Linked DNA regions of Homo sapiens: region 2 is linked to region 1. Evidence: fine-mapped expression QTL. A gene starts in region 1. The other region holds a variant in brackets. All regions are shown on one strand. Distances are from middle to middle. Region 1 holds the start of KIFC3 (kinesin family member C3). Region 2 overlaps KATNB1 (katanin regulatory subunit B1).

Region 1 (15,217 bases):
ACTTCACCTACCTTGTTTACCAGCCTGGGCAGAGACCGGAGCTAGCCCACACGCTCTTGGCCAAGGACGGCAGCCCGCAGAGCTCTGACCAGCTTGGCCAGAGGGAATGCAGCTGATTCCCCCTGCTCTGTGCCCGACCCGTGTTAAAGTTTAACCCGGCTTCCAGGTCTCCTCTTTTCCAGACAGGGGCGCAGGGAAGGAGCGCCCGGCGAGACTGACGCTCCGGCTCCACGCCCGCCTGGCTCTGGGCTGTCGGTTACCCTGTAATTACCTGACAGCTCTGACTGGGCTTAGGAACCGGTGAGAAACCTCAGTCTCATCTCTGGTATCTGGAGGAAGGAAGGGAAATAAAGAGGCATTTTAAAAATGCGGACTCACCAGTTCTCAACCTCCCCGGGCCGGTGTGTGGGAAAGGGCGGGCGGCCGGGCTGGCTGGGGCTGGGGCGGGGCGAGCCATCCCCGGCTCGGGCTCCGGGGCCCGGCCCACTCTCCACAGGCCCCGCAGCGAGGGCGTGGCTCCCAGGTTCCACGTCCTGCGAGAGGGGACCATGGCCTGGGGCTCAGCAGCCTCCTCGGGGCACCAGGCAGCCTGCGGAGAGAACAAGGGGAGATAAGCTTGAAGACCGTGGACCAGCACAACTGCACCTCGGGCAGAGCCAGCCATCTGGAAGGGTCTACGCCCCACCGGTCGCTGGTTACCCAGCGCAGCAGCTCCAACTGCACTGTCCCCCAAAGACCCTAGGGCTCGCAGGATGAAATGGGGCCTGCTGCCTTTTGGGGGTATTTGTTTCCGAATACGGAGGCTCCGAAGTGCGAAAGTTGCATATCAGCTGTGCCTGAGACCCCACACCTGAGCCCTTCCCAGCTGAGCCTGGAGCCTGAGGACAAGCCAGGTCCTAGCCCCACACAGAGGAGGCACCGCGAGTCAGCAGCATCTCCGTAAGTCTAATCCTTTTCCTCCAAGACATCTAATTTTCTAATTGCACTTAACCACATGCTTAACCCTTAGGCTTCAGGCTGCTCTGCCTAAGGCCTGTCAGCAGAGCAGTGAATGCTCTGAATATTAACATTTCACTGAGGAGGGACTCAAAAGGGCCCTGACTGTGGCCAATGACAAGTGAAGTCTATATACAGTAAGTTCTCATTCATGTATTCGACTAGCCTGCGCTCTGTGCCTAGCATGTGGCAGGCACCGTATGGGTGTTGAGATACAAAGATTCATTCAGTCTTCATTTAATAATGCCTACTGGGTGCCAGGCATCTGCCAGGGGTCCTTTTGGATCAGAAGAGATGAGGCCTGAAAACTCCCAGTCAGAAGGGAGATAAACACTTCAAAAAAACCCTCACAGTCTGAGCAGGCTACTGGAGGCGGCAGGTGCGAGCCAGGCACCAGGTGGTGTGGGGAATGGAGGGGGGCAGAGAGCATTGGTCAGGGATAGAAAGCTTCAGTCAGGGATAGGTCCCTCATGAACTGAACAAATGAACAGAGCTCAGGTATTCCCTGCAGAAGTCTTTATTGAGCACCTACTGTGTGCAAAGCAACCTTGAGGACATTTAAGGTGATCATGCTACAGTCCCAGACTCAGACAGTAATGTCATTTACAGAAGAAGCGAAGTCAGCTTGGAGAGGCAACATGGGGTTTTAAGATTGAGGTGGGGGTAACTGAAGGACTTCCTAGTGGAGCTTCCTGGGCTGTCGACTACTCTCCCCATCCGTCACTGCAGTGGCCACTTCCTGCCAGGAAGTGAAGATAGCTATTTGAAGGGTGTCCACCTCCCCTGACCCACTATGGGCCCACACACATTCATGTTTGCAGCCCCACTGCACCCAGTCTGCAGCTGCACCCACACTAAGAACTCTGGGATGGCTTGTGGGGTGAACGTTCTGAAATGAACACACACAAAAGCTTGAACTGAAGCCTGGAAGAGAGGTCAGGGCTGGACACAGACTCAGAGCTAAACAGGGCCACCAACGCCACAGGTGAGGAGGCAATCATCAAAGCTTGAGCAAGAGGAGACAGCCATGTGATAACAGGGCTCACTGCGGGGTGGAAAGCTGCAGAAGGAAGCTGAGAGAGGGACAGGAGCTCCAGGCAAGTATAGAGTTTTCAGAAGTGACTGAAGTGTAAGTGGGAAGGAGAGGTTGGTCAGTGCCCAGTGCATCATGCCAAAGAGACGTGGAGGACTGAAAGCCCAGACAGGCAGAAAGCCTGAGCCTGTGGAGGGAGAAGGGCAGATGGCAAACTTCGGAGGGCTCAAAGAGTGGGGCGGGAGCTGGGGGAGGAAGCAGCCACTTCCTTCTCCTTGGGGGTGTTTGGCTAGGATGGGAAGGAGAGGATGTGGTGTCTAGAATAGGGGGAGAGTTGAGCATATTGGGGAGACAGAGAGACAGGAGTGACTAAAGCATTGAGAGGCAAAAATAAATAAATAAATAAATAATAAAGTAAAGGGTCCAGGGGTTAGGGGCCTGAAGATCTGGTGTCTGATGTTTGCAGAGCCCAACCCTGGAAGAATGCCAGGCACCTGGCGAGGAAGCCATGGTCTCTTCCTTCCTTGACTTAGAACAACTAGGAGGCTCCTAGGTTCAGTCTTACTGGGAAGGGGATGGGAATGTGGGCCAAAGGACAGGGCAGAGGCTGATCTAAATACGTGGGCCAGCTCCACTGAGGAAACTGAGATGGACCAGTGTGGCGTGGAAGAAACCAAGGGGAGCAGCCAAATGTCCTCTTCTCCAGGCTGCCTGGCACAGAGCTGGGCACACAACCAACCCTGCAGACCAGCTGTCCAATGGGCAAGGGAAGGAGCAAGGCAGGTCCATCTGCAGTCTCGGCTGCTGGGAAGGTGAGACAGTGCAGGGCATTGGAGGCTGACTCCACAGTGGACAGAGAAGACTTTCAGGGAGATCAGCTCAGCTCAGTCTGAGGGGCAGGGACAGGAGGAGATAGCGTTTCTGCGGTTATCAGGAAGGGAAGTGGAGGAGGCAGCCAGGAAGATATCGGGAAGAAAGAGGAAGGGCGTGTGCTAGATCCCGAAGAGGAAAAAGCAGCTGAATTTAGCAGCCTCAGGGGTGTGAAGGTCAAAAGTATCAAGGAATCTTAAGCCCAGGGTTCTGGGCCAAGAAAGCAGGACTCTCTCTCATTTACATGGGCATCTGAGATGAAACCTGGTGTCCGGGGACTTCTACCAACCTAGGATTCGTGGGGGAGGGCAGTGGGACTGGTTCAGAACCTGGCTCCCCTGTTTACTAGATGTCTGACCTTGGGAGAATTACTTTGCCTCTCCGTACTTCATTATCTCCATCTATAAAATGGGGAGAACACCACCTTATAGGGTTGCTCTAAAGATTAGACAAGGCCAAGTGTTCAGAACAATACTGGCATATACAAAGAGCTCCAAAATTTTATTTTTCAGTTACTTTGCTCCAGTGGTGGGTGAATGCAGAGGGCCTGGCTGGGGAAGAGGGTCTCTGCCTCTCTGGGTTTAGACCAGGACAGCAGAGCTGCAATACTCCCCCTGCCCTAGATCAGGGACATTGCAAAGACTGGGGGGACAGGCTGGACAGCTGCTCAGAGACTGCAGCAAGCAGGGCTTGGTCGCCCTGGGAGAGCAGGCAGAAGGTCAAGGAAGTTGTACAGGGAATGCCACCTCCCTGCACACCATCATCTATCCTGGGCTTTCCAGGGCAACCTAGATTTCAAACCCTCTGCTCCCTGGTGCCCCTGTGAACAGCAGAACTCACCACCCTGTGCCCCTAAAGTCCACTCACTGCAAATGCAGGGCCCCATTCTGAGACTGCATTCCTAGCAAATGACTCTCCCTGGTCAAGGAGACGGCTACTCTAACAAGGGCATGGGGAATACACGTCTGGGAAAGAATGGGTGCTCACCCTGTTCAGGCAGAGGAAAAGCCGGGGAAGGTGAAAGACCAGGGGTGGCCACAACCCGCAATCTTGAGACAGTGTTGGGGTATGGAGGTGGGGGCTGGGTGGCAGTAAATGGTACTCCAGAATTTAATTAAACACAGCTTCCTCTTTAATATCTCCCAGGACCAGGCCCTTCACTGCACCAGCCAGAGTTCTGCTCTAACTAGCAATGCTGGGCTTAAAGGGGTGGTCCTGGGATCGCCCTCCCTGCTGAGACCCTCACAACTGCTGCGGCTGTCAATGGCCCGATTCCTCACTGCCCGGAGGGCACCGGCCAAGGCCCTTCTTCCTAACCTCTGGGCGGGCGCACCCCGCCCCAGGCCCTGCCAGGGAAAAAGCGAACTCCCCAAGGGACGTGGTGGGAGGGACCCAAAGGCAGCCTTCCAGGGAGCCCTGGGGGTGGGGAAGACGCCAGGAAGGGGAGAGGGCGGCGCCGATTGACAAGCCCATCCCGGGTAGGGTCTGCGCTCTTCTCGTTCAATAAAATCCAAACGGGGTCCCGAGGCTGCTCGGATCCCGTGGGACACGCCGCCCCTGTGCCCAGCTCCCAGCAAGGTCCTCGACTCGGGCTGAACGGCGCTGGAGGGGACCTCGCAGGGCTGGGTCTCCCGGGCCTTTCCCTCCCCGCGCCCATAGCGGGTCCGGGCAGAGGGGTCCCGAGGGCAGGGCCGGCCCGGACGCGGCGCCCCAAACGGCGGGCCGGGCAGAGCCCAGCGCCCCGCTCGCACCCAGCCCGCCCGGGCCCCCCACTCACCGGCCTGGCGGAGGCAGGATCCAGGCGTCGCCGCAGCGCCCGGGGCTCGGCCCGGCCCGGCCCGCCGGCAGGAGGCAGCTCCACGCCGCCGCCTCCTCCTCGGCCAGCCCGCTCGCGCCCCTCCCGCACACTTTCCACAGGAAATGATTAACTCGGGCCGCGGCGCGTTCCCATGGCAACCGGCTCCGACCCCGGCGGGGGGCGGCGGCGCGCGCCCGCACTCACGCGCACTGGCGCGCACGCGTCAGCCCGGGCGCGCCCCCGCAGGTCTCCCGCCGGCACTCCCACTCCCACTCCCACTCCTTCGCGGGGCCTCCCACTCGGTCTCTCCCGCCTCCCCGCGTCCCGCACTCGCACTGGCACACGTGCTCATGCGTTCCCTGAAGGCTCTCACAAAACAGGCCTGCACACGGGCTGGCACACACGAGGCAGCCCACACAGCCCCACACCTGGTGAGCCATGCGTACTTTTGCACAGCCTCAAACCCGAGTGCAAAACTTCCACGCGAGTACTCACACATACACTTCTCACGCGGGCTCTCATACCAGTACGTGTCTTCCCATCCCAACACACACACAAGCTCTTACTCACGAGACAATACATGTACATCCCTTACCGTGTCCTTGCACGCGCTGGCGCACATGCACTCACACTGTTTACAGCGCACACGCTCTCACTCGCTCCACCACCTACTCGCTGGCCAGGCCGCCTTCTAGCCACAGCACTTCCTACCTCTGCACCCCCAGCCCCACCCCAGCAAATGAATATCTTCCCAGCAAGGAAGCTGCCTGGAGTCCCTTAAGGTAAAACACACCAATGGTGCAGCAGTTCCCGGCCTTGCTGCAGAAGGCCCTGCTACTGGGGCACCTAGAGCCTCAGAAGAGGCCTGGGGGAGGCCAGGGGCCTGCCAGCCGGGAGAGACAGCTGACCTGGAGGAGCCACTCTGTTCTTTGTCTCCCAAACAGAGGCAGCATTTTATTCCAGAGCCAGCAGCAATATTCTCCCTCACTCTCCACACCCCCGGGTGCGGAAGAGGAGAAAGCAAGTCACTCTGAAGCCAGCCCATGCAGGCTGACGGTTCTGCAGATAATCCCAGGAGGGCGGGTACTCTGTCCCTTCCTGCTTGTCAGGGGATGGCCCAAGAAGATCAAGGAGAGGACTGGAGGGGGTCGGGCAACTCCAGGTGGGTTCTATCTCCTGCTGCCGCCCAGGCGCTGGGCTGCCAGTCAAGAATCTCGACCAGCGACGGAGCCAAGGGCCTGGGCCTCAGATTGTTCTGGACGCCAGAGCAGGACAGTCACAGTCCCCCAGCTGGAAGCAGCCTAGTGCATGCTTTATTTGACAACTGAGATTCCTCAGTGAAGGCCTGATAGAGGGTGAATGTAACGCTCCTGGAATCATTCCCTAGAGAGTTAGATTTCCAGCTGAACACCACACTGGAGAACCCTTCCAATGGGAGAGAAAGCCTTATTTGGGGAGTTATGATCTCTGAATTCCTCTGCCTGCCCTCCAAACAGCAGTGATCCAGGGGACCGCAAGGGTGGATGAAGGCAAAATGTCTCTAGAATTCTGATTTAGTATCTATCTCCCTTGATTATAGTCCCTATGAGTTGATGGGGCGGGGGATGGGGAGGACAGAATGTCTTTAAAGTCCTGGTTCAAAACTGGAGACTTTTTCTTACTCAGGGATTGAGTACATTGACATTAACTGTAGGTCCTTCCCACCAAAGCCAAAGCCAGATTTTTAAATTAATAATAACATTTATTGTTCTTTTGCTTTGATTACAAAAGTAATAGATGTTCATTGTAACCATATCCCACACACTGGAGATAAATGCTGCCAACACTTTAGAAGTCTTTTTTTTTCCTGTGTACATAATAGATGCCATTATTGAAGCTAACACTGTGTCAGGCACAGCACTAAGCTCTTTATAAACAAAATCCCATTTAACCCTGAACACCCTATGAACACCAGTACTGTTTCAGGACACCCGTGTTTCAGGAAAGGAAACTGAGCCTCAGAAAGTTTGTTCACAAATGCAGTGTGTGATAGAGCTATGACTCCAATAGGTACTCACACAGTACTATCAGATGCATATGGGTATAACAACTTATTAAGATCAAAGCACCAGCGAAGGAAAAAGGAAATTGAAGTGTAAGGAGGTTGTATTTTTGGAATTCTAGCAAAACTCCGATTTGAAACGTAAAAACTACTTGTTTCATGGTTGTTGCATTTTTGAGACAAGATCTTGATCTGTTGCCCAGGCTGGAGTGCAGTGATGCAATCATAGCTCACTATAGCCCCGAACTCCTGGGATCAAGTGATCCTCCCACCTGAGCCTCCTGAGTAGCTGGGACTACAGGCACACACCAGTGTGCCTAGCTAATTTTTTTTTTTTTTAAGTAGAGATGGGGGTGTCTCACTATGTTGCCCAGGCTGGTCTCAAACTCCTGGGCTCAAGGGATCCTTCTACCTTGGCTTTCCAAAGTCCTGGGATTACAGATGTGAAGATGTGAATCACTGTGCCTGACTCAATTTTTTTTTTTTTTTTTGAGACGGGGGCTCGCTCTGTCACCCAAGCTGGAGTGCAGTGGGATTACAGGCGCACACCACCACACCCAGCTAATTTTTTATATTTTTGGTAGAGACAGGGTTTCACCATGTTGGACAGGCTGGTTTCGAACTCCTGACCTCAAGTGATCCCCCTGCCTCGGCCTCCCAAAATGTTGGGATTGCAGGCATGAGCCACCGTGCCCAGCATGACTCAGTTTTTTAAAAAGAATATTGTGTGGAGTCGGGGTCTAGCTCTGTCGCCCTGGTTGGTCTCAGAATCTTAGCCTCAAGCGATCATCCTGCTTCAGCCTCCCAAAGTGCTGGGATTATTTGCATGAGCCACCATACCATGCCCATCCCAGTTGTTGGAATTTAAGAATGTACAATGTCATCAGGAACTACGTACCAACTCCAAGGTCATTTCTAACCCAGAAACTTCGCTGATGATTTGCATAGGAGGCTGCCAACTCTCCTGGCCCCGGGAAAGGTGCAAGTTTTGCTGAAACCTGGCCATTCCAACACTGAAGTCCTAAACCCTTGAGGGAGGACTCTTGGGTTCAGCCTTAGCCTTGACCCTTCCTGCCGAACTCTGGCAGAGGCACAGCTGTCTCAGGGAGGGCCAGACAGAAGACAGTGTCCAGAACACTGCAATTCCACGCCCACATCCACCCCATCCCCAGGCAGGGACTAGCAGCGCCATCTTTGTGTTCAGACAAGATCAGGTGTGTTCACGGTGGTATGCCCATAGACTTTTTTTTTTTTTTTTTTTTGAGACAGAGTCTCACTCTGTTGCCCAGGCTGGAGTGCAGTGGCGCAATCTCGGCTCACTGAAATCTCTGCCTCCTGGGTTCAAGCAATTCTCCTGCCTCAGCCTCCCAAGTGGCTGGGATTACAGGCATGCGCCACCACGCCCAGCTAATTTTTGTATTTTTAGTAGAGACGGTGTTTTGCCATGTTGGCCAGGCTGCTTTCAAACTCCTAATTTTTGTATTTTTAGTAGAGACGGGGTTTTGCCACGTTGGCCAGGCTGCTTGCGAACTCCTGACCTGAGGTGATCTGCCCGCCTCAACCTCCCAAAGTGCTGGGATTACAAGCATGAGCCACCACACCTGACCCATCTTTGTGTTCAGAGGGCCTGAAACCCTTTACTGCTCAGGCATTCGTCAGAGAAGTGGCCAAGAGCCTGAGAGTTCTGCTCCCCAAAGGGAAGGAAAGAAGGGGAATGAAAAGTCAGATTGTGTTTAATCTGATTCTCATAGCAACCCAGAGTAAAGCACAGATAAGATTTACATGATTTTCCCATTTTAAATGATTTAACCTCAGATCAAGTCTTCTCCGAGCCTTTGCAAATGTTGTCCTCCCTGCCTGGAAAGCCCCTCTCCTTCACCCCATTCTCATCTGCCTCCACTAACCCTTACCTGGCCAATTCCATACCTGCTTGTCCCTCCTTCAAGTTTAGAGGTCACCTTCTTTGACCCTCCCAGGCACCAGCAGGCGGGCTCAACTCACCCCCTGCAGCATCCCCGACCCTGGATCATGATGGCGTTCCTGTGTATACCATCTGCTCCTTCAGGACAGGACCCTTTCGTTACTTGATCACAGGGAAATCCTCAGCTGACCCCAGCTCAGGGCCTGGTATCACAGACATGTTCATTGAATAAATCCATAGATCCCATAGAATTCAGAAGGGAAGAACAGGTGCGTGAAATGTACCCAAACAGACTTTCTTCCCATGTAAAGTAATGATAATTTCTACCAAAAGGAAGTAAGAGAAGGCTCCTTAGCAATTATTTCCATGTGGTCAGGAAGGAGTGCCCTGCAGCTGTGAAAAGTGTGTCCTCTCATGCTTCTGGGTAACAGAACATTTATTGAAGTTGGAGAAACTCATTCTGGAGTGAGCCGCATATTAAGTAATCCTGACCCAATTAGCTGCTTTTTTGAATCCACATCTTCCAATCTTCCAATCCCTCTGAAATCATTCATCATGAGCACCGCAGAAAGAACTACGGAGGAGGCTGGACGTGGTGGCTCACGCCTGTAATCCCAGCACTTTGGGAGGCTGAGGCGGGCAATCACCTGAGGTCAGCAGTTCGAGACCAGCCTGGCCAACATGGCTAAACCCCATCTCTATTAAAAATACAAAAATTACCCGATGTGCTGGTGGGCGCCTGTAATCCCAGCTACTTAGGAGGCTGAGGCAGGAGAATTGCTTGAACCCAGGAGGTGGAGGTTGCAGTGAGCAAAGATCATGCCACTGCACTCCAGCCTGGGCAACAGAGCAAGACTTTGTCTAAAAAAAGAAAAAAAAAAACCCCGTGGAAGAGCTCTTGGAGGTGAAGAGCCTGGCACTGCACCCAGCCCCATAAGCATGAATTTGGTTTCCAGCTTTGCATGTCACCAACTGCAGGTCTTGGGCACATGACTCACCCTGAGCACCTCAGGGGGTCTGGCACAAGGCTCACAGCTGCAAGCTCTCAGGAAGCCAGGCTCCTCAGTGGGCATGGAGAGGTGGTGGTCTTGGATGTCCCTTGACTGGACTGTAAATTCCTGTCATCCTTGTCTGCTCTAGACCCAGCTCAGCAAGCATTAGGTGTTCAAGTGATATTTAAACTAATGGTACTTTTCTCACTCTTTTCTCTCCCTCTCACCTTCCTGCTCCCTGTGTCCCTTCCTTTCTAGAAGCTGTATTAACAGGGGAAAACAGTTCTCCCATTTTCAGAGAACCAAGGCAATCTTTCCCCCAAGAAAATCACCTTGCCGGCCAGGCACAGTGGCTCATGAGACAGGAGGATCGCTTGAGGCCAGGAGTTCTAGACCAGCCTGAACAACATATTGAGACCCTGTCTCTACAAAACAACAAGCCAGGCGCGGTGGCACAGGCCTGTGGTCCCAGCTACTCAGGAGGCTGAGGCGGGAGGATGGCGTGGGCCCAGGAGTTTGAGGCTGCAGTAAGCTATGATCGTGTCACTGTACTCCAGCCTGGGCAACAGAGCAAGATCCTGTCTTAAAAAAAAAAAAAAAAAAAAAAAAAAAAAACCTTCTAAGAGGACTAGAAAATAAAAAGGAAACCACCTTGCTTTAAAATCCAAATGGTGGCTGCCTTTCTGCATTGGCCAAAAAGACTGAACTCGACAGTTCTCCCCTAACTCTCAGTTTAGGGGAACCTAAAGCCTTATGACTCAAGGAGGAATTTGGCGGAGATTCCCTCCCTCCTAGCACTCCAAGGCTAAAAGCAAACGGAGGCTTTGTGAGGTTTTTTTTCCCCTTTTATCATTTCCTGTAGTCTTAAAAAAATGAGAGGAATGCAAACATTGAGGAGATAATGGACGTAAGCACCAGGTAATAAAAAGATTTAGCAATAACCGCCCTGAGAGTAGCACGGGCCAAATAAGCCCCGCCCCCGGCCCGCCTCTCAGCCCGAGGATCCTCCCACCATCCTCCAGAAGCCGCCGGGCTCCTCCTTGCTAAGTGTTCTGCCGCTTCTCTCCTTGCTCCTAAATTGTTATAGCTCCGGGTTCTAAACCAGCACATGCGTTATTAACATCCTTCGCATTTTTCCCCACTTCCTCATTCACTTCTCCCCACCTGCTGCAAATTCTAGGTGGCAGTTTTTGTTTTTGAACTTAAAATTTTTTTTTTTCTGCACAAATCTAATAGAAACCAAGAGAGAGAGGAAAAACACAAAAACTAAAACACCAAATCCCACCACCCTTCACTTATTGTCATTGGCCCAGATTTTTCTTTCCAGTATCTGACCTTGAGCTGATGTCATTTCTGTGTTAAGGAGAGACAGTATAGAGAGATGGCTAAAGGTGGTTCTGAGGCCAGGCAGACCTGGGTTTGAGCTCATTCACTGGCTCAGTCACTTCTGCTGTGCCTCAGTTTCCTCCTGTGAAAATGAGAGTAGGGCTAGTGTCTAACCCATTGAGTTATGGTGAGATGTAAATTGGAGCAAGCACATAGCACCCTCAGCCCAGCATCTGGCACACAATTGGCATTTCTGCAAACACAAGCTGCAGTTATAGTGGGAGGCAAAGACCGGATAGAATTTTTTACTCTGCCTTTTCTTACTTTGAATCATGTAAGTGCTGGGTGTGGTGGCTCATGCCTGTAGTCCCAGCTTCTTGGAAGGCAGAGGTGGGAGGATCGCTTAAGCCCAGGAGTTGGTCAGCCTGGCCAACATAGCAAGACTCCCATCTCTAAATTTTTTTTAATTATTATAATAAGCATTTTCCATGTCACTTTTTCCTGCTAATGCCTACATTTTTCTGAAGTGCAGACATCATAGGATAAAGCCAAGGTCACATTCAGAATGGAGGTTCCAGTGTCTGGGGCGCACCTAGCACTCAATAAAAATGGCTGAAAAGTATTTCATTTATTCACTTATTTAGAGTTGGGGTCTCGCTCTCTCACCCAGGCTGGAGTGAGGTGGCATGATCAGAGCTCACTGCAGCCTTAAACTCCTGAGTTGAAGCAGTCCTCCCACCTCAGCCTCCCGTGTACTGGAACTACAGCTGTGAGCCACTGCACCCAGCAAAAAACTATTTTAAATGGCTGCATAATATTCCACTGAGAGCCTGTGCCCTGACTGAGCTGGCCATTCCGTAGGGTCTGATATTTGAGTAGCTCCCATTTTTGTCACTTTTATAAACAGCATTGCTGTCACCATTGCCACCCACACAGCCCGTTCATTCCCTGGTGTGGGGAGGGAAGGGAGAAGAGAGGTTGTCAATTTCATAAAAAATCTTTCTGAATAAAGAGTCTGAGCATTTTTTTTTCACTTTCTAAACATGTTGCCAGATTGCCCCTCAGAAGGCCTGTACCAAATTTACACTGTCGTTGGCAGCATTTTTTGACGAGAACTACTTTTCACGCTAATTTACAGTTTTTCTCTTGGATCTGGAATTCTCGCCCTGGCTGGTTCTCCTGGGAGGCATGAGGCATATATAAAGATATCTGAGCGATGGCTGTCACCAGAGGGGCGTATCTGGTTCTTCTGCCAGGTGCTCAGGCCGGGAGTGTTTCTGTCTGCTGGGCCAGGCCAGGTGGGGCTGAGAGCACTGACTCAGTGCTCCCAATCCCTGCCTGCTGTTAAGCCCTCAGAGATCTTCTGAGGTCAGTCCTGGAACGCCTCAGTACCCCGCGGTCCAACACTCTGGCCCATCCTAGACGGATGAGTCTCATCTGGTGCCACCACCATGATTCCTGCTCTCACACCCTGGCACTTCACTGGGGCTCCTTGCAGTAAGTCAATCAGCTACTACTGGGGGAAAAAAAAATTCCTCCTGGGTGGGGAGATGGGGACAGGGGCCATAAGGGAAGCCACGTGCTCCTGGAAAGCCATAGCCACAGCCCCTGACCACCTGCTGAACTCTTAGCACCACTGCTGCTGCTGCCTTTAAACTGTAGCTTCGCTTTGCTGAGGTTCTGTGGTGCGCAGCCTCTCCCCTAGCTCTGGTCCTCCTCCTCTGGGGGTGGCCCTTGTTTGCAAACAGCAACAGGAAGTTTTGACGCTGCTGATTAACTAGACTCCCACAGCTCTCAGTGCTGAGTCATCGCCACCAGTGTCAACCTCCCGCCCGCCCCGCTGACACCACCAGCTTCCAGGTGACCGAGAGGAAGCAGCAAGGATCCTGCGGTTCCAGTGGCTTCCATCTGCCACCTTCCAAGGGAGGGGAGGGACAAACTTCCATCCACCCCAGACAACCAGAATGTGCAGGGCCCTGAATGCCAGGACGGGAATTTAATCTAATTCAACTTCAGCAATGGGCTGAGGGACAGCTTCATGCCAGGCAAAGGGAAAAACTCTTTACACACAGGATTGCCTTTGCTTTCATTCAATCCCCGCAACAACATGTGTGGTAGGTGTTATTATTCCCATTGTACAGATGGAGAGACTGAGGCCAGTGGAAGGCCTATGGATGTGTAGGGGCTGCTGTGGGAAGATAGCTTGGAGTGCCAGAGATGGTGGGTACCGCCAGCAGGAGCTGTGTCCCCAACCCACGATGTGACCTTGGTCAGACTTCCTCCCTGTTCTGGGTCTCATGCCCCTCCCTGGGTAAAGGAGGAGGGTGGACTGGTGACCTTCTCAGGGCTACAGCCACAAGGAAGTGAGTGGGCCAGCTGGAAGGGATGGTCCTCATTCTGGGACTCTGCTTGCTGAAAGCCTGATCCAAGGGCAGGAGCATCCCACCTCAGTACCTGGGGTTGGCTTCACTGTTCACAGTTGCTTCTCCAAGGAACTCCACTGAAAGAAAGTAGTTGAGTGGTTGCCAGGGCCTGGGAGGGAGAATGATGAGTGACTATGAATGGGGCTTCTTTGGGGCGTGATAAAATGTCCTAAAGTTAGTTTATGGTGACAGTGTACAACTCTGTAAATATACTAAAAACTATTGGATTGTACACTTTAAACAGGGAATGTTATGGTATGATAATTATATCTCAGTAAAGCCGTTTAAGAGAGAAAGGAAGAAGGAAGGAGGGAGGACAGGAGAGAGAGAGACCTACACAGAGGTCAGGCCAAGCGCGATGGCTCACGCCTATAATCTCAGCAGTTTGGGAGGCAGAGCAGGGAGGATCACTTGAGGCCAGGAGTTTGAGACCAGCCTGGGCAACGTGGCAAGACCCCATTTCTACAAAAACATTTAAAAATTAGCTGGGTATGGAGTGCATACCTATGGTCCCAGCTACTTAGAAGGCCTGAGGCGTGGGGCCAAGCGGAGTGGCTCACACCTGTAATCCTAGCACTTTGGGAGGCTGAGGCAGGTGGATCATTTGAGGTCAGGAGTTCGAGACCAGCCTGGCCCACATGGTGAAACCCTGTCTCTACTAAAAATACAAAAATTAGCCGGGCATGGTGGCATAAGCTTGTAAACCCAGCTACTTGGGAGGCTGAGGCGGAGAATCACTTGAACCTGGGAGGCAGAGGTTGCAGTGAGCCGAGATTGTGATTGTGCCACTGCACTCTAGCCTAGGTGACAGCAAGACTCCGTCTCAAAAAAAAAAAAAAAAAAGAAGATTGAGGCCAGAGAATCACTTGAGCCCAGGAGTTCAAGGCTGCAGTGAGCTATGATCAGACCACTGCACTACAGCCTAGGTGACAGAGCGAGACCCCGTCTCTCTCTTTTTTTTTTTTTTTGAGACGGAGTCTCGCTGTCACCCAGGCTGGAGTGCAGTGGCGCGATCTCGGCTCACTGGAGGCTCCATCCCCTAGGGTTCACGCCATTCTCCTGCCTCAGCCTACCGAGTAGCTGGGACTACAGGCGCCCGCCACCTCGCCCGGCTAATTTTTTGTATTTTTAGTAGAGATGGGGTTTCGCCGTGTTAGCCAGGATGGTCTCGATCTCCTGACCTCATGATCTGCCCGCCTCAGCCTCCCAAAGTGCTGGGATTACAGGCATGAGCCACTGCGCCCAGCCCCCCATCTCTTAAAAAAAAAAAAAAAGAGGTCAGGCCAGAGCTGCCTTTGGGATTTGCCTTCTGGGAATAGGGCCCTCAGCACCCAGCCCCTCTGCAATCATCCCCCTCTAAGCAGCCTCACTCCAGAGTCCAGGAAAGGTGTGTGTGAAGACACCCAGTGGCAGGCGGTGGCCCCAGCTGCTGACCGAGTGTGATGGGGCCCTGGCCTTTGGTGCTTGCCTTCCTCAGAGCGGAAAGAGCCATGAATCAAAGGGCAGGTGTGTGTGGACCTGAAGGAATGTGGGGAGGGTGGCAAGAAAACGGCTGGAGGTGGAGCGGGAGAGACCCCATGAGTCAGGGTGAGATGAGGTGTTGCTCAGACAGGGAGGGCCTGGAAACAAAGCCTGGACTGGAAACACCGAAACACCGGGCTGGCCAGGGCGCTCTCAGTTGCCTGGAAACATCTTAACACTCCAGAAAGTGTGAGTAAGGAATACCTGCTGCCCCTGAGGGGCTCCCCCGAACTGGTCCAGCCATGTCTGCTTGGCAGTTGTGGGGCACAGGCAGATGCAGCTGCCCAAGAGGCAAC
Region 2 (15,292 bases), 51 kb before region 1:
TCTTTTCTTTCCTCTCTCTCTCTGTCTCTGCAGGCTTTTAGGGTCTTTGTCCCAGTGTTCTGGTGTGGTGAGCCTTGGGGTGGGTCTGCTTCCACCCTGTGCTAGGTCGTCACTGGTTTCATGCGGTTGTGGTCTGGAAACTCATGCCCTCAGTTCTGGGCTGAGCGGAGAGTCTCGCCCACTGCTCCTGTGCTGTGCCTCGGTGCCTTAGCAGGTGGTGCCAGCTCTACGGATTTTTCAAGAGAGGCTGGAAATCTGGAAATTCATGTGCCTTGGTGCCTTAGCAGGTGGTGCCAGCTCTACGGATTTTTCAAGAGAGGCTGGAAATCTGGAAATTCATGTGCCTTGGTGCCTTAGCAGGTGGTGCCAGCTCTACGGATTTTTCAAGAGAGGCTGGAAATCTGGAAATTCATGTGGAATCCACCCATTTAAAAATGTTGACAGCTCATTCAACATTTGTTTTAGAACACCATGCAGGCCAGCACTGTGAGGTCCAAATAAGACCCGTTTGCCTGATGCTTTTCTTTTCTTTTCTTTTTTTGAGACAGTGTCACTCTGTCACCCAGGCTGGAGTGCAGTGGTGTAATCTCAGCTCACTGCAACCTCTGTCTCCCAGGTTTAAGCGATTCTCCTGCCTCAGCCTCCTGAGTAGCTGAGACTACAGGCACGGACCACCATGTCCCGCTAATTTTTGTATTTTTAGTAGAGACGGGGTTTCTCCATGTTGGCCAGGCTGGTCTTGAACTCCTGACCTCAGGTGATCCGCCCACTTCAGCCTCCCAAAGTGCTGGGATTACAGGAATAAGCCACCATGCCTGGCCTGCCTGATGCTTTTTGATAGCCCTTGTTGGATCATCCCGCGTGCCAGGCAGGAGGCCACCTACCTGAAGCCCTGGAGAGGAAGCAGCAACGTGGATTTTGCCGAGGCTGCTTTTTCCAGAAGAGAGCCCCTCTGGCCTGGCTGAGACTTCAAGATTCTTCTGGGCCTCTCCTTGGTTCATGCTCTATGTTGGCGGCAGGGCAGCAGCCATGAGCCACACATGCACAGTGGCAAGGTTCCCTTTGCTCAGGAACAGTGGGCTCTCTGTGTAGGTGGTACTCAATAAAGATGCACGCAGCCTCTTCAGTGATGCTTGCCTACTCAGTGATGGTCAGTTTAAGAACAAAAGAGCCCCAGGACCTCTTTGATAACAAACAGGACTGCAGGCTTTGCGTCTCGGCACGTGATCGCACTGCCTGGCCACACCAGGGCATGCTGTGCTTGGTGTCGCTGAACTCAAGCGGGCCAGGGAGGAGTGAGTCCAGGATGGCTGGGCTCTCATGGAGAAGATGGGAAGGCTCAGGCAGAAGGTGGGCAGCTCCCTGGACCTGAATCCCAGCGCGTGGGCACCAGCCATTCAGTATTCACCGAAGAACAAGAGACAGAAGGGAGAAGCCGAGGGCGCCGTGCCCCCTGTCCAGGCTTTCTCATCCACAATTGTTTTGCTCACAGGGGAAATGTGAGGAATTCCTTGAGGTGGCTGAGAAATGAAAACTGAAGATTGCTGGATTCCTGGGCCCTGGACGGCCAGGGCTGGCTGCTCCACAAGGAACTCATTACGAACTCACGGCCCAGACTCCATCCTCAGAGAACCCGATTCAGTACTGGGGTGGGCCCAGGATCTGGATTTTAATAAGCTTCCAGGTGATTCCGATGGACAGCCAGGTTGACAGATGGGCAAACAGAGGCCCAGGGAGAGCACCGAGCTTAGGAAAACCCCAGTAGCTGCAGGTAGCAGAGCCTGGGACTTGAATCCCGGTGTCAGGACTCCCATCCCAGTGTTGTCTGTTCTGCCATTGGATGGAAGAGAAACTTGCCATCAGCACAGCAGGTAGAGCTAAGACCTCCGGCCCCCCTCCACACCCCCTCGCCAGAGTGCAGGTGACAGTGACAGACAGGCAAATTGAGGCCCCAGGTGTGGAAAGGTTCCAAAGAGAGCTGCTCTGCGGGCATGGTGGCTCACACCTGTAATCTCAGCACTTTGGGAGGCCAAGGCAGGAAGATCACTTGAGGCCATGAGTTTAAGACTAACCTGGGCAACAAAAGGAGACCCCATCTCTATTTTTTTAAAAAAAAAAAAAAAAAGGAGAGAGAGAGAGCTGCCTCATATCGGTTGCCTTGAAAGGCCACCCATCACTGGAGGGTTCAGATGTAGGCTGAGGAGGTGCTCAGCTGGGAGGCGTTGGGGGTTCCTGTGTGGGGCAGACAGACCCCGGAAGCCCCTCCACTCTGCAGTTCCTAGATCCCATGATTGAATGTAGGCATCAGAGGCCTTCGTGGGACAGAAGAGCAAGGGCAGGAGTCAAGCCGGAAGAATGTGGTCCTGCCTGCTTTCCACAGCGCAGCCAGAGGGCAAGGGTAGCTCAGCGCAGGGGATCCCACGGGATCTCACAGGAGGGCGGCCGGTGCTTCATGCAGCCAGCCCACACAGGGTGGGACTCCGCCACATCCTCTCTGGGCAGGGCAGGATTTTGGAAGCCTTGCTGTGGGATCCAAGCTGAGTGGGCTGGGAGCGGGTGTGGACTGGAGCAAGAGCCAGCGTGGCCTCCTTGGCCAGGAGGCAATGCCCAGCCCCCAGCAGCACCTGATAGCTACACGGAGCAAGGAGTGACAGCTGCAGAGATTCTGGTGCAGGTGAATTGGATATGCATTCGACAGACTCCAGAGGGATGTGAAAGTATCCAGACCCAGCTCCAGCGCCAGACAGGGCCAGCTGCAGAGGGGCACTGAGGCCTGGGGAGGAGGAGAGAAGGCCCAGCTTGCGGGACAGCCAAGAGCAGAAGGCAGGCCTTGTGCAGGAAGAAATGTGAATGGGACTAATTAAGACTGGCATTTATTGAGCACTTACCATGTGCAGAGCCCGTGCTAAGCACTTTATGTATGTTTACTCCATTCTGTGACCCAACATGAGGCCCAAAGACAGTAAGTGATTGGCCAGGGTCACACCACCAGTGAGGAGCGGAGCCAAGGCTGATCCCAGTATTGTCTGATGCCAGAGCCCACATCCTGACTTTGGGGGTAGAGAAGATCATACAGTAGAGTTCATTTAATTCACCCAGTGCTTGGATCTTGACTCTGCAGTAAAGTGTTATATATGGAATCTTGAATACCTCCTCTGACAGAGAGCTCACTACCTCACAAGGTGACCTATTGCACCTTGGCTCAAAACTAAGAATGGCTGGACTCCCACATTTCCTGACCCTGGCACTTGGGATGGTCAGTTTCATTCAGATAGTGAATTATGAATCTTTCCAAAAGCAGGAAACATGAGACAAATCTGAGTGGTACTGGAGGACACCCTGAAACACACAAGGTTTGCCTCCAGGCTGGGCCGCTCCTGGCCATGGAGATGCCTGCAAAACCTTCAAGGAAAGGATAGGAGATGTGGTTCCTAGGGCAGTGGGAGGCGATCAGGCCCCACCCCAGGAGTTCTTTGGTCCTCGCGTGTCCTCCCTGTGTCCTCTCAGTTCTCACTGCTCCTCAGTGTGTCCTCACAGCCACCCTCAAGATCCCTTGGACAGAGGTCACCCAAGAAGACTGGTGTGTGCACCAGGGCCACCCCAGCCATGCCCTCCACTTGCCCTTCTTAGGGCCTTTGCCCATCACCTCCATCTACCTAACAGCATCCCTCATCCTCCACCCACTGACATCTACTCAAATACCACCTCCTCCATAAAGCCTTCCTGGATTTCTCTTTCCAACCAAGCAGCTTCTCTCCCAGCTTGAACCTCTCCTGGTCTGTCTCTCTCCTTGCACTGTCTTGGGTGGGGTTCAGTGCCCTGCAAACCATAAGCTCCACACCCATGGGGCCTGAACTGAGTGTGGTGGTTCCCTGGTTCTGCTTCCGCTGGAGCACAGTCTGTGGGGAGAGTGTGGTACAATTTCTGCAGACTTGAGGTAACATAGGGCTGTCACCTCTCAAGAGAAATGTGGGAAAATTAGTTGTTGGCAGGACGCAGTGGCTCACACCTGTAATACCAGCGCTTTGGGAGGCCAAGGCGGGTGGATCACTTGAGGTCAGGAGGCCAGCCCAGCCAACGTGGTGAAAACCTATCTCTACCAAAAATATAAAAAAATTAGCCGGGTGTGGTGGCACATGCTTGTAATCCCAGCTACCTGGGAGGCTGAGGCAGGAGAATTGCTTGAACCCGGGAGGCAGAGGTTGCAGTGAGCCGAGATCACGCCATTGCATTCCAGCCTGGGCGACAGAGCAAGACTCCTTTTCAAAAAAAAGGAAGAAAAGAAAATTCGTTGTTAGGGTGGTGGGACCCTTGATTGTTTCCTACTGTTTTAAAAATGTGTGTTATTGTTCTATTTTTCTGTGCAGCTAATCCAAAAGCGCACACACAAATGCCCACAGCAGCCCTTCCTCTGCCAGCCTTCTCATTTGCCTCTTAGCCACTGTCTCTGCTTTCCTTCTTGTTAGTTCTTCGCACACTCATGGGACACAAAGCCAACATCTGCAGCCTGGATTTCCACCCGTACGGCGAGTTTGTAGCCTCTGGTTCCCAGGACACAAACATCAAGGTGAGAGGCCGGTCCGTGCCCCGTGTCTCCTGCTGGGCCTGTGGCAGGACCAGCCCGGCCCGGCCCTCAGTGCTGGATGCCTGCTGAGGGGACCTCTTCCCTTTCTGCAGCCACATCCACACCATCCTAGGGAAAGCGGGTGGCAGGCATCTATCTGCCAGATGCTTCTGCTCAGAATGCCAGCTTTAGTGAGCAGTTTCTGTCCTTGTCTCCGTGGGGAGTAACGACCTAGAGAAGGCTGGGCCCCACCGTCTGCTCACGACTGCACACCTTCCTCCAGTCGTGGCTCTGACCTCTCCTGACTCTGCCCCTCTGCTTCTCTCTCCCCCACAGCTCTGGGACATCAGGAGGAAAGGCTGTGTCTTCCGATACAGGGTAAGGATGCGCTCTGTCGGTGACTCCATGAGCACCTTGCGGGCATTGAGTGTGGTGTGGTGCCCAGACCCCAGCAGGGGGTGGAGGGGACGGCTGTCCCACATGGGTGATAACATAAAACATAGACCTGGAGCTGAGCAGGAGCGCCATGGGCGGCCCACCTGGATCCCCTGGCTCTGCATGAATCCCCTAGAGCCACGTTCATCAAACTGCTCCAAGCAGAACCAGGCGGGTAACCAGTGTTGTTAGATGGAAGGGGTCCCATAGGAGTGAGGAGGCAGGGAGAGGTCTGTTGGGCCCAGGATCCCAGGGTGAGCTCATGCCGTGTCCTCCCTCAGGGGCACAGCCAGGCCGTGCGGTGTCTCCGGTTCAGCCCCGATGGGAAGTGGTTGGCGTCGGCCGCAGATGACCACACCGTGAAGGTAGCTCCCGGCCTGACCTGGGCCCAGGGGCTGGGGGCTGGGGTCTGCTGATCACAGCAGGCTGAGTCCTCACCTCCCTCCTGATCGGGCTCACATGTCCCAAGCCTATCCCGAGTGGAAGGTAGCTTGTGGATAAAGAGCTTGGCCTGGATTAGAGGGAGGGTGGGCAGCCAAGATGCCTGGTCACCCTGACCTCCTCCCTGCCCTGCCTCCAGCTCTGGGATCTCACTGCCGGCAAGATGATGTCTGAGTTCCCTGGTCACACGGGGCCTGTCAACGTGGTCGAGTTTCACCCCAACGAGTACCTCCTGGCCTCCGGCAGCTCTGACAGGTGAGGAGGAGGAGCGAGGCGAGTTGCTTGTGACTGCTGTCCTTCACCGCCTTGTCCTCTGTGCGTGTCTCTACTGCCGGTCTGTCGCTGTCTGGGGTGTCATACGTCTGATGATCCTGTGTGGACTGAATTGGATTTCAGCCGAGCCAGGACTGGACCCTGGTCCATCTCCCCTGGCTCTGGTTCCCTGGCCCCAGTGTCCCAGGTCTGTGGCTTCATGGGCAGGTTGGGACCCAAGGCATCTAGTGGGACCCCATAGGGCAGGGAGGCTCGTGGCTGTTGGGGCCAACCCTGGGGCCAGGGCCATCGGGCCGAGCCTCCCCCTTGCAAAGTCAGGGCCAGCTCTGCCCCAGATGTTGCTCCTGGTGGCCCTGCCCTGGGGGAGAGGTTTCTAGAGAAAAGCTGGCTTCCCAGGGACATGTGGAGGCCAGGATGAGGGATAGGCTTCGCAGCACAGCTTGGCTGCCTTTGCAGGACAATCCGCTTCTGGGACCTGGAGAAGTTCCAGGTGGTGAGCTGCATCGAAGGGGAGCCTGGGCCCGTCAGGTACGCAGGCTGTGGGGTGGGCGGCCCAGCGCTCCTCCCGGCAGTGGGGCGTGGCTGTGGGTGGGCCTTTCCCATCTCCGCTGCTGCGCCCTCCCTGCCCTGGGCCCTCTGGATTCCTCGGGGTGGGGACCAGGCTGGGTGCCACAGGACCCACGGCCATCTCTCGCCTGGCCCAGGAGCGTCCTCTTCAACCCAGACGGCTGCTGCCTGTACAGCGGCTGCCAGGACTCACTGCGTGTCTACGGCTGGGAACCTGAGCGGTGCTTTGATGTGGTCCTCGTCAACTGGGGCAAGGTGGCCGACCTGGCCATCTGCAATGACCAGTTGGTGAGAGAGCCATGGCACCCACCGCCCCCCACTCCCACAGGGCCACCCGCCTCCCTCCAGCCCAGGCCCCTCCTCCTACCCCCACACTGGGGCTGGGATTTTGCCCCCTCGGCTTGCAGTCCCAGCCCCACCTCTCCGCTTTCTGCAGATAGGTGTGGCCTTCTCCCAGAGCAACGTCTCCTCCTACGTGGTGGATCTGACGCGTGTCACCAGGACTGGCACGGTGGCCCGGGACCCTGTGCAGGACCACCGGCCCCTGGCACAGCCACTGCCCAACCCCAGCGCCCCCCTCCGGCGCATCTATGAGCGGCCCAGCACAACCTGCAGCAAGCCTCAGAGGTGAGGGCCTGGGGGGCCTTCGGGGGCCCAGGAGAGGGACTGTCACAGGGGAAGCCTCGGAGTTCCAGCCCTGGGCCTCACAGGGCACCTGCTTCCGTTGGGCTTGGCCTCACGCTCCCAGGGTGAAGCAGAACTCAGAGAGCGAGCGCCGCAGCCCCAGCAGCGAGGATGACCGGGACGAGCGCGAGTCCCGCGCGGAGATCCAGAACGCCGAGGACTACAACGAGATCTTCCAGCCCAAGAACAGCATCAGTGAGGCCGGGCTCCCGCCCCCAGCCCAGCGTCCCCATCGGTGAAAGGGAGGCTGGGGGTCCTTCCAGGGTAGCCTGCTGTGGCTCCGCATCCCTTTAACTTCCTCCTAACCCACACCTGGGCTCCGTATCCTGTCCTCACGTTCCCTGGGCCTTGCCAGGCTGTGCTCTGATGGAACTGAGAGGGGGGCCTGGGCACTCCCCAGCAGCGGCCCAGCAGCTGCTCAGTGTCCCAGTCCCTGCCCTGCCAGGGACAAGTGGGCTGGGAGGGGCAGGACTGAGGGTTCCTGGGACCAGGAGCAGGGTCCACAGTCTGCAGCCGCATGCCTGGGAGCTACCCTCCGTCCCCCGCACTCTGGACAGGGCCCTGGGTCCCAGGTGGCCTGGCCAGGAGCGCTCACAGCCAGGGGCCTCTTTCCTCTGCAGGTCGGACGCCACCCCGGAGAAGTGAGCCCTTCCCTGCACCCCCAGAGGACGGTGAGTTGGGTGAGCCTGGTTTCCCAAGGTCTCTGATGCCCCCCCGTCCCTCATCTTCTCTTCCTGTGAACCCTCCCAACAAGCCCCTTCCCAGGACCCTCCCCTCTCAGGACACGACCCACACCCTCTCCCGCTGGGTCTCTGCCCTCTGCCTGTTATGTGCCAGGTCCCTGCAAGACCGATAGTGCCCCCGTAGGAGCCTGTGCCCTGGTGTGTGGGGGACAAACATGGACACCACCACACTGGGGGGCCTGCCAGGGGCACTCGGGCTGTGGAGGATGGAGAGGAGTCACTGGGGGCCCACCTTAGATGGGGTCTGCTGTAGACGGGATGATCGGGAGGCTCTCAGGAGGCCCAATGCCTGTCAAGGCCTGGGGGCCAGTGAGAAGAGAGAGAGAGAAGTGCTTCTGGCAGGAAGGGAGCTGAGAGGAGGTGAGCTGGGGCGAGTCCCAGCAAGAGGTCAGGCCCACAAGGCCTCAGCTGGGGGTTTGGATTAAGAAGGGAGAAAAATGATCTGCACTGTGGTTGGAGAACGGGCAGGCATGGGGCCACCTGTCCTGTAGAGTACCCCTGCCCTCCCCTCAGGGACCGTCCTTGCCGTCAGTCCTGGCTTTCCTAGGAGCCTCCACTTCCATCTTGCCAGTCATCCCAGCCCCCTCCACATACATGCCAGTGAAGGGACAGGATGGCCACATCCTAGAGCCCCCTGGGTCCCACCCACAGGCAGACCTAAGGTTGAGTTGGGGGAGAGGGAGGAGGCAGGTCCAGGCCTGCCCCAGGTCCTCTGGAACCCCCACGCCACTGGCCTGCAGCCTCCCCCATGCTCCTGCTCCATCCCCCCATTGCAGATGCTGCCCAGAGTCCCGCCCTGAGCCCTGCCCTTCTTGCCAGGCCCTTCTGGCCGGACCCAGTCATCTTTTCCTTTTGCCTCCAGACGCAGCCACAGCAAAGGAGGCAGCAAAGCCCAGCCCTGCCATGGATGTGCAGTTCCCGGTGCCAAATGTATGTCCATGGAGGGAGCATGGTGTGGGGCCTAGAGAAGGTCCTGACCCAGGGTTGGGGGTGCCTCGGGAGGCAGAGAGGGAGGCCCCAGGCCGGCAACCGCTGAGTTTCACACTTTCAGCTGGAGGTCCTGCCCCGGCCCCCAGTGGTTGCTTCCACACCTGCACCCAAGGCTGAGCCTGCCATCATCCCTGCCACCCGGAACGAGCCCATCGGGCTGAAGGCCTCCGACTTCCTGCCCGTGAGTAGGAGCCCAGCTCGAGGCATGGGTGGAGGTCTGTGGGTGGAGGGCAGAGCTTTGCTGCTGGCTCCTCCCATGCCAGCATCTGGGTGTCCATCCCACGCAGGCCGTGAAGATCCCCCAGCAGGCCGAGCTGGTGGACGAGGATGCCATGTCACAGATCCGCAAAGGCCACGACACCATGTGTGTGGTGCTCACCAGCCGCCACAAGAACCTGGACACTGTGCGGGCTGTGTGGACCATGGGCGACATCAAGGCAAGTGCCCACCCTTGCACAGGGCCTCATCTCGCCCCCCTGCCCCTGCCACCTGCCTGCCCGGG[C/G]TTGGGGCAGAACAAGAAGAGGCCACCCATGGGGGACAGTGTGGGATAGGCCATCCCTGACGTCACACCATCTGTTTCCGCCATCATCATCATCATCACAGACTGCCGTTTAGTGAGCATCTGTTTACATGCCTGGCCTTACACTCATTGCGTTAGGTGCAGTGCTGAATACCCACAGCCCCATCAGCACACCCACATTCACGTTCGTACCCCCACCCTCACCCTCACAGGGCCACACTGTCCCCCACTGCCCCACCCCTGACGGTGCTCTGTTTGCACAGACGTCGGTGGACTCCGCTGTGGCCATCAACGACCTGTCGGTGGTGGTGGACCTCCTGAACATCGTCAACCAGAAAGCGTAAGTGGCTGCAGAGGGGGAGTGGGCGGAGGGGCAGGGCTGGGCTGATGGCAGCATGTCCTGGCCTCTCCTAGCTCCCTGTGGAAGCTGGACCTGTGCACCACCGTCCTGCCACAGATTGAGAAGCTTCTGCAGAGCAAGTATGAGAGGTGCGTGTGGGGAAGCCATGCCTGCCTGAAGCAGGGGGAGGGGAGAGGTAAGAAGCCTCCTCCAGAACCATGGGAAGGACCCCCAAGAGCCTGGGTGTTCCTGTGAGCTGGCTGTGAAGCATTGCTGCCCCTCAACAGTCCGGAGGTGGGAGTGGAAACAGGCGTGTGTGGGTGTATGTGTGGGTGTGTCTGTGTCTGTTTCTGCCCCTCTCCTCCTTTGTTCCTTGCTGTTTCTCTTTCTGTCTGTGGCCCTTGGTCCATCTGTGACTTCATCCATCTCCCCCTAAAGCTACGTCCAGACGGGCTGCACCTCCCTGAAGCTGATCCTGCAGCGGTTTCTGCCCCTCATCACAGACATGCTGGCGGCCCCACCCTCTGTGGGTGTGGATATCAGCAGGGAGGAGAGGTGAGGGCAGCGCATGTGTTGGGGGCAGGGGTGCCACAACAGGTGAGGGGACAAAGGCCTGGAGGCCTGGGCCCCTCTTACTGACAGTCCTGCTGGGACAGAGTACAGAGGAGGCGTTGGTCTGGGGCCATGGCTCAGGGTGTGGGTGGGCTTAGCCAGAGCTGGGTTCCTCCATGGCCTGGCTGTGCCCACAATCCCTGGCAGGGCCTGGGTGGTTCCCCTCTGGGCCTCCGCCTTCCCTTGGGAGGAAGGGCTGGAGCAGTTAGGACAGCAAAGGCCCTGGGGTTGGGTGTGGGTGGTGGTGGTGCCAGCTAGCCCCTCAGGCACTGCCCTCTCTACAGGCTGCATAAGTGCCGGCTCTGCTACAAGCAGCTTAAGAGCATCAGCGGCCTGGTCAAGAGCAAGTCAGGCCTGAGCGGCCGCCATGGCAGTACCTTCCGCGAGCTGCACCTGCTCATGGCCAGTCTGGACTGAGGAAAGCAGTGGGCAGGGGCGCTCGGCAGCCCACAGGGCCTGGCCTCAGCCCCCACTCCTGTTCCTTGTGCACCCACTGGCCCATGAGCCTCTGCCTGGCCCCTGCTGCTGTCCTGTGGCCGTCCTGGAGGAGGTGATGCTGGTCCCTGGCCACCTCTACAGCCCTGAACTCTTGAGACAACTCTCTCCAGCAATAGCTGCCCAGCTTTGCCCAACTGTTGCTTCTTGGGGCAGCGAACTGAGCCCTGGGGCTGCTGCTGTAATTTATAAGGCAAATTTTATTAAATTTGTAACTATTCCCAGGTTTCCTTGTGGGGAATGTTTTCTGCTGGCCACAGGGCTCCCCGGGCCCAGGAGTGCCTGCCCCATGGTTTGAGATGAGGCCACACCCCCTCCAAGCCCGGGGGTGGGGCTCTGGGCCATGTGGCCAGCAGGGGGCAGCAGAGAATCAGGCCTCTGGGACAGCACCAGTTCAGCCAGTGCAGACTGGGAAGGAAGGGGAGGCGGCAACCACCCTTCCACCACTGGGTGTTGAGGTTAGGGGTGGCCCCCACCAGCCCGTTCCTCCCCACCTCAGCTACACTCAAGCTGTCTTATGGACACCCCCAGGATGCCTCCAGGGGCAGGACTAGAAGGGCACCTGCCCCTTCCTCTGAGCAGGGCTCCGATCAGCTGTCACTCCCTGCTGGAGTCCCCAGCACTGGCTGGCGGGAAAGGGCTCCCTGCTCCGTGGGCACTGCGACAGGTGGGCCCCCTCCTGCTCCCAAGGCAGGGACCAGGTACAGCCCCGCCCCGGGGTGGTCAGGGTCCTCGGCACTGGAGGAAGGTGGCGTGGACCTCTGGCCAGTTCACTGAAGAGGGAAAAGGCCAGGGCAAAGAGTGGGCAGTGGGTGGTGCCCAGCAGTAACCTGGAAGCCCAGCATGGTTTGGGCAAGGCTTTGATAGCCTTTGAAGCTCTCTCCAGCCTTAGTTTCCTTCCCATCAGTAACATGGAGGAATGCCCCTGTTGGGAGGTCAGTTATCGTGGGCACATGGTAGGTACCGCATGAGGCGACTGTGACCACAAACAACAGAGAAAGTGACCCAGGGTGGGACAGCGCAGGCTCCCCCCAGTTGTTTGTTAAGGACGCATGTCCCTAACTGACCTAGAGGACAGATCCCAGAGGGCTGTGGGGTGACCAGCCAGCGGGGGAGTCCACAAGACCTGCCAGTGCCCCGTCCCCCTAATCAGACCAAGAGGGGCTCACAGACCAACTTTTTCAGACCATACTTGTGTAAAAAGGCTTCTTTTATTTTAATAAGTAAAAATGGCTAAGCTTCCAAAAGTTCTTAAATAGGATTTCAGAGGGAAGAAAATTCGAGAGACCAGCGAGCCAGGCAGGTGAGCGAGCAGCAGAATCCCCCACCCGCTGGCTGCCTCTGCCAGCCATAAACACAGCACGGCCCCGTGGCGGGAGGCCATGCGCCTCCGCACACCCCCCAGCTGCGGGAACCCTCCTTGAAGGAGAGGGGCGGGGAGGGCTGCCATTGGTGCCACCAACCCACCCCAGTCCCCATGGTTCTTGGGTCTGCCCAGAGGCTCCTCGCCCACCCCCTAAGGAGGGGGCTGGCCAGCTCTGCAAGCTGAGGAGAGGGGCCGAGAAAGCCTGGGTGAGAGGCCCACCCTCCTCCACACTCCCGCCCTCCTCACGGGGCCCAGTTCGCTGATGGCCCAGGCCTGCCAGGAAGAGCAGCCACCCCCGCCTTTCCGCCCATGCAATTTGCACTCAGAGCCACAGCCGAGAGACACCGTTTCCTTCTGAACATGTTTCTCATCTTTGAGGGGAGACGGGGCAGAAGAAGAGCCTCCACTCTCGCCTCTACCTCCGGGGGTCCTGGCGCTGCAGCAGGGACAGGCCAGTGAGGGCCCAGCTTCAGGCCCAGCGGGGTCACATCCGTCACACAGGCAGTGGCCGCGACTTCCCTGCAGGGGCATGAGATCATCAGCCTCTTGTCCACTTGCCCACCGGCAGCCCACAGCAGTTGCCACCGAGAGCAGGAGGGAACCCAGCAAAAGCACATAGACAAGCGACAGCAGGGGCTAGACCCAGCTCTGAACAGCAGAACGTCCCAGCGCAGCCCTGCAACCCACTGCGGGCAGGCAGGCGGGCAGCCCTGGGCCACAGGCCCCACACTCACCTAGAGACTCTGCAGCCCCAGCCGTCAGGCTGAAATCAAAGTGACAGGCGTCTCACTGGTGGGCTTGCCTTGGGCCAGTACCCCACAAGACCCTGCTGCTGCTACCCCTTTGGACTCAAGGATGGGCCAGGCCCTCCCATGATCTGGGCTAAACAGGGGCTGGAGCCCTGGGTCCCGGTCCTGTGGCGGGGCTCACTCCTCACCTAGGAGGTAGGCAAGCCCGGCCCTTTCTACCCCCGGGGCAGCTGAGGCACAGGGAGGGGGCTGCAGGGGCTGCTCTGGAGGGGGCTTACTGCACAGGCTCAGCCAGCCCATGCTCAGAGAGCAGGGTCCCAGGGTAGAGTCAGCACCCCCGGCTGAGAGGCTGGGGTCTCCTTACACTGCCCCCTTCCCACAGACCTTCCATTTCCCACCTGCAGAACGGACACAGCACTGTCTGCCCTGACTACTGCCTGGGGGCAGGGGAGGTTGTAAAACAGGTTCTGGAGAAGGTGTAAGAACTTTTTAAAAAGGAAAGAAAAGAGAAAGCCCATCCAGGTAAGGGCAGCCTGGTGACTATTACCCTGGGGAGACTCCCCACCCACACTGCCACTCCAGGCTCACCCGAGGGCTGCAGCTTCCTCCGGATGGATCCAGGGCGGCTACTGGTCCCAGAGCTGGGGGCTGAGTGGGCCCGTGCCGAGGGCTGTGGCGTCTGACAAGCCGGCTCCCACTGTGAGCAGGGAAGGGCGGATGGGCGGGGGCCACGGCTGCCCTGGCTCCCCACCCTGCTGTGCTTCTCTCTACTCCCCTGCCCTGCCTCCTAACACCCAGTTTCCTCATCTGCAAAATGGGCATGATGTTTGTGCCCCAGCCTCAGTTATGGCAAGAATTAAATGAGATAATTCATGTAAAGAAGTCAACTAGTTACCACTGAGCATCTACTATGTGCCACCCCCACGGCCAGCTCGTCACCCCACAGGAACCTCCGAGGCCAAGAAGAAATACCTGTACTGAAGAGGCTGCTGGCTGTGGGTTCCAGCCGTAGCTCCACCCAACTCCGGCAGCTTCCCTGCCCCCACTGCTTCAGGACGTCCCCGCCCAGCTCCCTGCTCCTGCCATGACCCAAAGTCTCTGACCCAGGGCCACCTGAGCCAGGCCTGTGACAGTCCCCGTACCTCTAGATGCTCCTGGCTTGACCAGGACCCAAGCTCTGCCCTGCGTAGCCCAGGCCCCAGCTCCACAGAGCGCACCCTCTCAGCAAACTTGAGGGAATAGAGCGTCTCGCTAGTGTTCTTCTCCACGGGGGACACCTAGGGGACACGAGAGCTCACTGCCCACCCGGGCCAGCTGGAGGGGCAACAGGGTCACGAGAGGGAGCTCACAGCTGGGGCCGTCAGAAGGCTTCCTGGAGAGGCCTGAGGGATGGGGTGGGAGGGCAGGCAACATGGCAGAGGTGCTGTGGTCAAAGGTGGAGAGGAGGGACTGGGAGTTACACAGGGTGTGTGTGGCCAGGTCTAGGGGCGGGGAGGTCCATTTGCACAGCCTGGGGTGACTGGGTCTCACTGCTAGCGTAGCCCCTACATGCTAGGGACTGGCCCGCCCTAACCCAAGGTCCTCACCTGTACCACCATGAGGGTCTTGCTGTCACCACTAAGCGAATCCTGCAGCAGGTAGGTGAGCTTGGAGTTGCGGAAGGGCACGTGGCCCTGGCGGGAGCGCAGGGCAGCAATGACGTCCCCCAGAGCCGACAGCGACTTGTTGATGTGCTGCGCCTCCCGCAGGCGGCTGCCCTCGGCCCCCGACTTGCCCACGCGCTCCGAGCCAGCCAAGTCCACCAGGTTCAGCTTCCCTGCAGGGAAGGCACCCACCAGATCAGGCCTGCCCTGCCCCTTGGGGTTGTGGGGATCCTCAGGCCAGGCTGCCTGCCACTCTCACCCGTGGTGCGGAGGCCTGTGCTGCAGTCCACGCCTCGCACCGTCACGATGAGCAGCGCGTGCGAGCGGGAGCTGTGCTCGTTCAGGTTGGTGAACTCGGTCGTGCGATTAGTGTGGCCAAACTCAAACACCTGGGGGATTGGGAGGAGGGCAGAGGCACAGCGTTGAGAATGGGGTCCTCAGAGTCACCTGGCCCCAAGCACCCATGAGGAGTGGCACCACCCTCCGCAGTTTAGATGAGGAAACTGAGGCTCAGAGAGGCGTGCGGACTTGCCCAAGGGTGCGTGCTTAGGACACAGCAGAGCCTACATTCAAACCCAGTTGTGTCCTCTAGAGCAGTGTGGCTGTGGTCAGGGGCTCCCGCCTCCACACCTTGTTGATGTCGTCCACGCTCTGCACTTGGAACTCAGTCAGCCCTGGTACATACAGCTGCCCACTGCCGTCTGGGCACAGCCGGATCTCCAGTTTTTCCTGAGGCTCTTTCCCTAGCAGGTCCCTGGAGGGGCAGGTGAGACAGTCACCCCCTCCTCCCATTTCCAGCTGCTGTTTGCACTGCACCCAGCCCCCCAGCCAGGAATGTTCCCCCAACCCAGGAAGCCTTCTCCAGCCATC

Evidence for each region.
Region 2: its variant is fine-mapped to the expression of KIFC3 in whole blood (TOPMed, PIP above 0.99). The same link has a PIP of 0.9 or more in blood mononuclear cells.

Annotation. Positions count from the first base shown.
Region 1 is chr16:57,797,694-57,812,910 of GRCh38, forward strand. It overlaps KIFC3 (kinesin family member C3), which reads right to left and starts at 4,798. Exons shown (of 20, transcript NM_001130100.2): 1 at 4,677-4,798; 2 at 379-589. The coding sequence starts at 550. It overlaps LOC388282 (a long non-coding RNA gene), which reads left to right and starts at 12,826. Exons shown (of 4, transcript NR_169553.1): 1 at 12,826-13,091. RefSeq lists enhancers at 3,741-4,417, 5,095-5,771, 12,541-12,670, 12,861-12,920, 12,981-13,040.
Region 2 is chr16:57,746,361-57,761,652 of GRCh38, forward strand. It overlaps KATNB1 (katanin regulatory subunit B1), which reads left to right. Exons shown (of 20, transcript NM_005886.3): 5 at 4,467-4,567; 6 at 4,901-4,942; 7 at 5,281-5,364; 8 at 5,580-5,695; 9 at 6,170-6,241; 10 at 6,418-6,568; 11 at 6,717-6,907; 12 at 7,029-7,159; 13 at 7,585-7,635; 14 at 8,570-8,637; 15 at 8,759-8,878; 16 at 8,985-9,134; 17 at 9,481-9,557; 18 at 9,632-9,706; 2 more. The coding sequence ends at 10,586. It overlaps KIFC3 (kinesin family member C3), which reads right to left. Exons shown (of 20, transcript NM_001130100.2): 14 at 15,053-15,176; 15 at 14,682-14,811; 16 at 14,366-14,595; 17 at 13,922-14,056; 18 at 13,368-13,476; 19 at 12,765-12,793; 20 at 11,857-12,549. The coding sequence ends at 12,789. Among named protein-coding and RNA genes, the nearest start is that of KATNB1, 18 kb to the left of the region's middle. RefSeq lists enhancers at 10,629-11,268, 10,857-11,151 and a silencer at 10,950-11,099. The variant C/G (reference allele first, on the strand shown) is at 9,200.